Linked DNA regions of Homo sapiens: region 1 is linked to region 2. The links come from fine-mapping of genetic effects on gene expression. A gene starts in region 2. The other region holds a variant in brackets. All regions are shown on one strand. Distances are from middle to middle. Region 1 has its middle 33 kb from the start of LILRA2. Region 2 holds the start of DNAAF3 (dynein axonemal assembly factor 3).

Region 1 (2,908 bases), 630 kb after region 2:
ACCCTCTGCATGTACCATAGCTGAATACCATTTCCCTCGTCCCTTCTCAGCCCAGGACAAATACACTTTCTGAGAATGGAGATAGAGGTGGCCAGAGGATGACTCTCATGCCAGTTTCTGAGAATTGAACTTGCTCCAAACAATGTTGGTGTTTTTCTGAGTAATGAGTAAGAGCAGGTGGGTGGAGGATTCAGGAGAGAAAAAGGGGAGGGGGCACAGGCTATGTCACATAGGAGCATACCCTCCGTACCAGGACCCATGCTGAGAGGTGGTGGGAGGACTTCCACATGTGTGGACACATCTCATCACTCTCTCATCCATGATATAGTCCTTGAAAGAGAAAAGACTGTAGCCAGCCGTACTCTTGGGCTCAATTCTAGACATGTCTGCTACTTCTAGACATTCAACTTGGGAAGCTTTTCTTTCTTCTCTTTCCTACTTTTTTTTTTTCCATAAGGAGGGAGGCATCATTAGCCCAATATTCTATCCAACAACTTGGATGCTTTGGCCAGGTGCCATGGCTCATGCCTGTAATCCCAGCACTTTGGGAGGCACAGACAGGCTGATCACTGGAGTTCAGGAGTTCAAAACCAGCCTGACCAACATAGTGAAACCTGTCTCTACTAAAAATACAAAAATTAGCCGGGCGTGGTGGCAGACACCTGTAATCCCAGCTACTTGGGAGGCTGAGGCAGGAGAATCACTTGAAACTGGGACATTGCAGTAAGCCAGTTTCATACCACTGCACTCCAGCCTGGGCAACACAGAGAGACTCTGGCTCAAACAAAAAGAAGAAAACAAAAGAAAAAAGAAAAGAAAAGAAAACGGATGCTTTCCAAGATGAGTGACCATAACTAGCAGAGCCATCCATTGAGCCCAAGTGTCTGATTATAATCTTTTCTCTTTCAAGGACTATGTCTCGTTCCCCCATAAGGCTCCCTGCTGAGTTGCTACTTCTCTGATAGCCCAAGTATGAGTTGCCATCAATGGAATCAGAGGCTCAGAGAGAAATGAGCGTGCCCCAGGTCATGCACTGAGAAATACTGGAACAAGTTTCCAAACTCTCCCTCTTAGTGACTCCAGCTCTGAGCCTCTCCTGAATCCACCTGCTCAACTCCTTCTCCAGCCCCAGCACATCTAAGCTGCCATGAGTGTCCTCTACAAGGATGTCACAGCCCCACCAGGCTCCTGGCTTCCACTCCTGCCTCCCTGTAATAAACACTATTCACATCGGCCGATTGCTATCTCTAAAATAGAATGTGGATCATGACACGTTTCTGACTAAAACCTTTGTCTTCGGCCAGGCACAGTGGCTCATGCGTGTAATCCCAGCACTTTGGGAGGTCAAGGTGGGTGGATCACCTGAAGTCAGGAGTTCAAGACCAGCCTGGCCAACATGGTGAAACCCTGTCTCTACTAAAAATACAAAAATTAGCCAGGCTTGGTGGCGGGCCCCCTGTAATCCCAGCTACTCAGGAGGCTGAGGCAGGAGAATCGCTTGAACCCAGGAGGCGGAGGTTGCAGTGAGCCAAGATCACGCCATTGCACTTCAGCCTGGGCAACAGAGCAAGACTCTGTCTCAAAAAAAAAGAAAAAAAAAAACGGCTGGGCACAGTGGCTCACACCTGTAATCCCAGCACTTTGGGAGGCCAAGGCAGGC[G/A]GATCACAAGGTCAAGAGATCGAGACCATCCTGGCCAACATGGTGAAACCTGGTCTCTACTAAAAATACAAAAATTAGTCGGGTATGGTGGTGGGTGCCTATAATCCCAGCTACTCAGGAGGCTAAGGCAGGAGAATCACTTGAACCCGGGAGGCAGAGGTTGCAGTGAGCCGAGATCACGCCACTGCACTCCAGCCTGGAGACAGAGTAAGACTCTGAAAAAAAAACAAAACAAAACTTGTCTTCACCTCTTTATTGGAATAAAATCCAAACTCTTTACTGTTGCTTAGAAACCCTCACTTGGTAGCACCAACAGGCTGGCTCTAGTCAATAAGAACTTTACTGTACATTTTAAAATAAAAAGCATAATTGGGGCCAGGCATGGTGGCTCACACCTGTACTCCTAAGACTTTGGGAGACTGAGGCGGGCAGATCACCTGAGCTCAGGTGTTTGAGACCAGCCTGGACAACATGTTGAAACCCTGTCTCTACTAAAATACAAAAAGTTAGCCAGGCATGGTGGCGTACACCTGTAATCCCAGCTACTTGGGAGGCTGAGGCAGGAGAACTGCTTGAACCCAGGAGACAGAGGTTGCAGTGAGCGGAAAGCGCGCCAATGCACTCCAGTCTGGGTGACAGAGCAAGACTCCATCTCAAAAAAAAAAAAAAAATCTTAATTAAATTGTTTGTAACTCAAAGAATAAATGCTTGAGGGGATGGATGCCTTAACCTCCATGATGTGCTTATTTCACATTTCATGCCTGTATCAAAACATCTCATGCGCCTGATAAATATACACACCTACTAGGTACCCACAAAAATTAAACATTTTAAAAACGAGAAACGTTCACACAAGTTGGTCCCTGTCCTCCTCTCTCAGCTCCACCCCTCTCCCCCGGCATGTCAGCCTCACTGGTGCTGTGAACACACACAAGGCATTGCCATGTTGAATTTTTTTTTTTTTTTGAGACGGAGTCTCGTCCTGTCGCCCAAGCTGGAGTGCAGTGGCATAATCTCGGCTCACTGCAACTTCCGCCTCCCGGGTTCAAACAATTCTCCTGCCTCAGCCTCTGGAGTAGCTGGGACCACAGACATGCACCACTACGCCCAGCTAATTTTTGTATTTTTAGTAGAGACAGGGTTTTACCATGTTGACCAGGAACAGCTCGATCTCTTGACCTTGTGATCTGCCCGCCTCAGCCTCCCAAAGTGCTGGGATTACAGTTGTGAGCCCTGCGCCCAGCCCTG
Region 2 (2,908 bases):
CAGGAGGCAGATCCGCTGCACCTCTGCCCGCTGCACGCTACATTCCCATTTCACAGAGCAGCAGACTGAGGCTCAGAAAGGGTGACTGGTCTAAGCTCATGTGTCTGGGCAAGGAGAGGAGGCAGAGAGCCAAGTCCCCTTGGGCGCTGAGCCCAGTGCTGGGTGCTGGGGTGATCTAGAGATGTGCCTCATTCAGACTTTGGTTTTTCTTTTTTTTTTTTTTGAGACAGAGTCTTGCTCTGTCGCCCAGGCTGGAGTTCAGAGGCGCGATCTCAGTTCACTGCAACCTCTGCCTCCCAGGTTCAACAGACTCTCCTGCCTCAGCCTCCGGAGTAGCTGGGATTACAGGTGCGTGCCACCACGCCCGGTTAATTTTTGTATTTTTTAAGGTCGAGGCGCGGTTTCACCATGTTGGCCAGACTGGTCTCCAACTTCTGACCTCAAGTTATCTGCCCACCTTGACCTCCCAAAGTGTTGGGATCACAGGCGTGGCCACAGCGCCCGGCCGACTTACCCTTATTTTAATGCAGTTGATTTAACTGTACGATTACAGAATTTACCTGTAATTTTTTTGTTCATGTCAGAAGAGTAATGTGCCGATGTCGTAACAAGGTTTGAGGGAGGCACATCTCACGCATGCGCGTGAACACCCAATCATCCCGCTTAGAAACTACAAAAGGATCTAGCTGTAAGTTTAAATTATGGCTTCGTGTAACAATAACCAGCTCACAAATCCCTGAATTTTTAATGACCTGCACATCAGTGTCCCACCTGTGGGCTGTTCTGTGTGGTAGAGCCCACGTTGTGCTGGGGCGGGGAGCGGGCTCAGAAGCCTGCCATCTAAAGTCTAGACACTTCACTTTATTTGAATTGATGAAAATTCCGTTACGTATGAGCAAAGGCATATGAAGAAAACAAAAAAACAAAAAACAAGAAATAAGATTAAGCTCCCTTCACTCTCAATTTTAATCAGCCCAGGCCTCCCCCATTCCAGAAATTTGGACCGACCCTGACTCCGCCCCAACCTGTTCTAGCACCGCCCCTTCCCCCGCCGGCGCCGTCGTCATGACAACCGCGTCCACACGCCCTCTTCTCCTAGGTGTGGGGGAAGGCTGGCCCTCAGTGCTCCCATTGGCCAAAAGTTTGTAGAGGGCGGGCCTCGCTCACTCTCATTGGTCAGTTGCTCGCTGTGGTCCCATCCCACATGCTTCCATTGCTTGATTCCTCGAAAAGGGCGGGGACTCTGGGCAGCGGTTGTGGAGTGCCGCGGGTCCACAGTGCTGCACTGAGCAGAGAGGAAGGGGCGTCCCGGGATATTTGGAGGATAAAGGTGTGGGCAAGGTATCATGTGGAGGCAAAGGGGCGAGAAGTGAGGGGCGGTGAGAGGGGAGCGGGGCGGGCAATGTGTGCGATTCCCAGAATGTCTTTTCCGCAGGGTGATGACCACACCTGCCGGCTCCGGCAGCGGCTTCGGCTCCGTGTCCTGGTGGGGCCTGTCCCCGGCGCTGGACCTGCAGGCTGAAAGTGAGTCCCAGCACGCAAGGTCTGATACACCGTCTGCCTTCCCAGCCTGAGCAGACGGCCTTTTAGAGCTCGTAGTCCCAGCGTCGGTGGCAAGGGGGGCGCTAACGTTCTCCAACGCTCCAGCGGCAGAGGGCGCGCTCCCAGGGGCAGCCCCGAGGTCCTGTCTGCGGACTGCGAATCCCAGAATACTCAGAGGAAACACCTCCCCTTAGAACCTAGGCCACGGGCGGAACGCCTACTGGGATTTGTAGTCCATTTTTTATAGGGGATGCTACGGTGGACGCTCTGCCAACCACCATGGTGCCCCAGCCAGCTGTCATCTTGCCAGGTCCTCCTGTGGACCCAGACTCCCAGGCCGATACAGTGCACAGCAACCCCGAGCTAGATGTGCTGCTTCTGGGCTCTGTGGATGGACGGCACCTGCTGCGGACCCTGTCCCGAGCGAAGTTCTGGCCTCGCAGGAGGTTCAACGTGAGCTGGGATGAAGATGAGAGCCCAGATTCCCGAGTCCTTGAGGGAGGAAGGGATTGAAATTCTAAAACCTCAGGTCCAGGAATGAAGGGGCTGGAGACTCCTAGATCTGAGGGAGGCAGAAGCTGGGAGCGAACCGATGCGTCTTGGGGGAAGGAAGGGGCTGGGGTTTGGAACTCCTGGGTTCTATAGTGGGGAAGAGCTCGAGGATGAGGTCTTCTGAGTAATGGAAGGGAAGAGAGCTCTGGGGACACAGACTTCTGTGTTTGAAGGAAGAGGCTGGTGTACAGAACTCGGGTGTGTGGAAGGAGAGAGCTGAGGGCCTGCTCTCCTGGGTCTCCTAGGACCCAGGCAAACAGGTCTCAGAATTATTCTGCCCTGTCCATCCTTCTAGTTCTTTGTGCTGGAGAATAATCTGGAAGCTGTGGCCCGACACATGCTGATCTTCAGCCTAGCCCTGGAGGAACCGGAGAAGATGGGGCTGCAAGGTCTGTTGCTAGGACCCAGGCATTCTGACCGCTGGTCTCCTCCCCCTCCCTAGAGGGATTCTGGCATTTCAATGGTACAATTAAAAAGTTTGGTTATTTTCCTGGGAGGCGGAGGTTACAGTGAGCCGAGATCGCGCCATTGCACTCCAGCCTAGGCAACAAGAGCGAAACTCCGGCCGGGCGCGGTGGCTCACGCCTGTTAATCCCAGCACTTTGGGAGGCCGAGGCAGGAGAATGGCGTGAACCCGGCAGGCGGAGCTTGCAGTGAGCTGAGATCGCGCCACTGCACTCCAGCCAGGGTGACAGAGCGAGACTCCGTCTCAAAAAAAAAAAAAAAAAAAAAAAAAAGAGAGCGAAACTCCATCTAAAAACCAAAAATGTTTGGTATTTTCCAGTGTGGTACCTCTGATGAAAAAAAAAATCCA

The links. PIP is the estimated chance that this variant, and not a neighbour inherited with it, causes the effect.
Region 1: its variant is the best candidate, but not a certain one, in a credible set for the expression of DNAAF3 in uterus (GTEx, PIP 0.86).

Annotation. Positions count from the first base shown.
Region 1 is chr19:54,539,004-54,541,911 of GRCh38, reverse strand. It overlaps the pseudogene KIR3DX1. Among named protein-coding and RNA genes, the nearest start is that of LILRA2, 33 kb to the left of the region's middle. The variant G/A (reference allele first, on the strand shown) is at 1,661.
Region 2 is chr19:55,164,945-55,167,852 of GRCh38, reverse strand. DNAAF3 (dynein axonemal assembly factor 3) reads left to right here and starts at 1,240. Exons shown (of 12, transcript NM_001256715.2): 1 at 1,240-1,330; 2 at 1,436-1,524; 3 at 1,853-1,995; 4 at 2,390-2,483. The coding sequence starts at 1,440. DNAAF3-AS1 (DNAAF3 antisense RNA 1) reads right to left here. Exons shown (of 4, transcript XR_007067345.1): 4 at 949-2,034. It overlaps LOC124904795 (small nucleolar RNA U13), which reads right to left and starts at 682; the gene lies at 579-682. RefSeq lists a silencer at 1,629-1,860.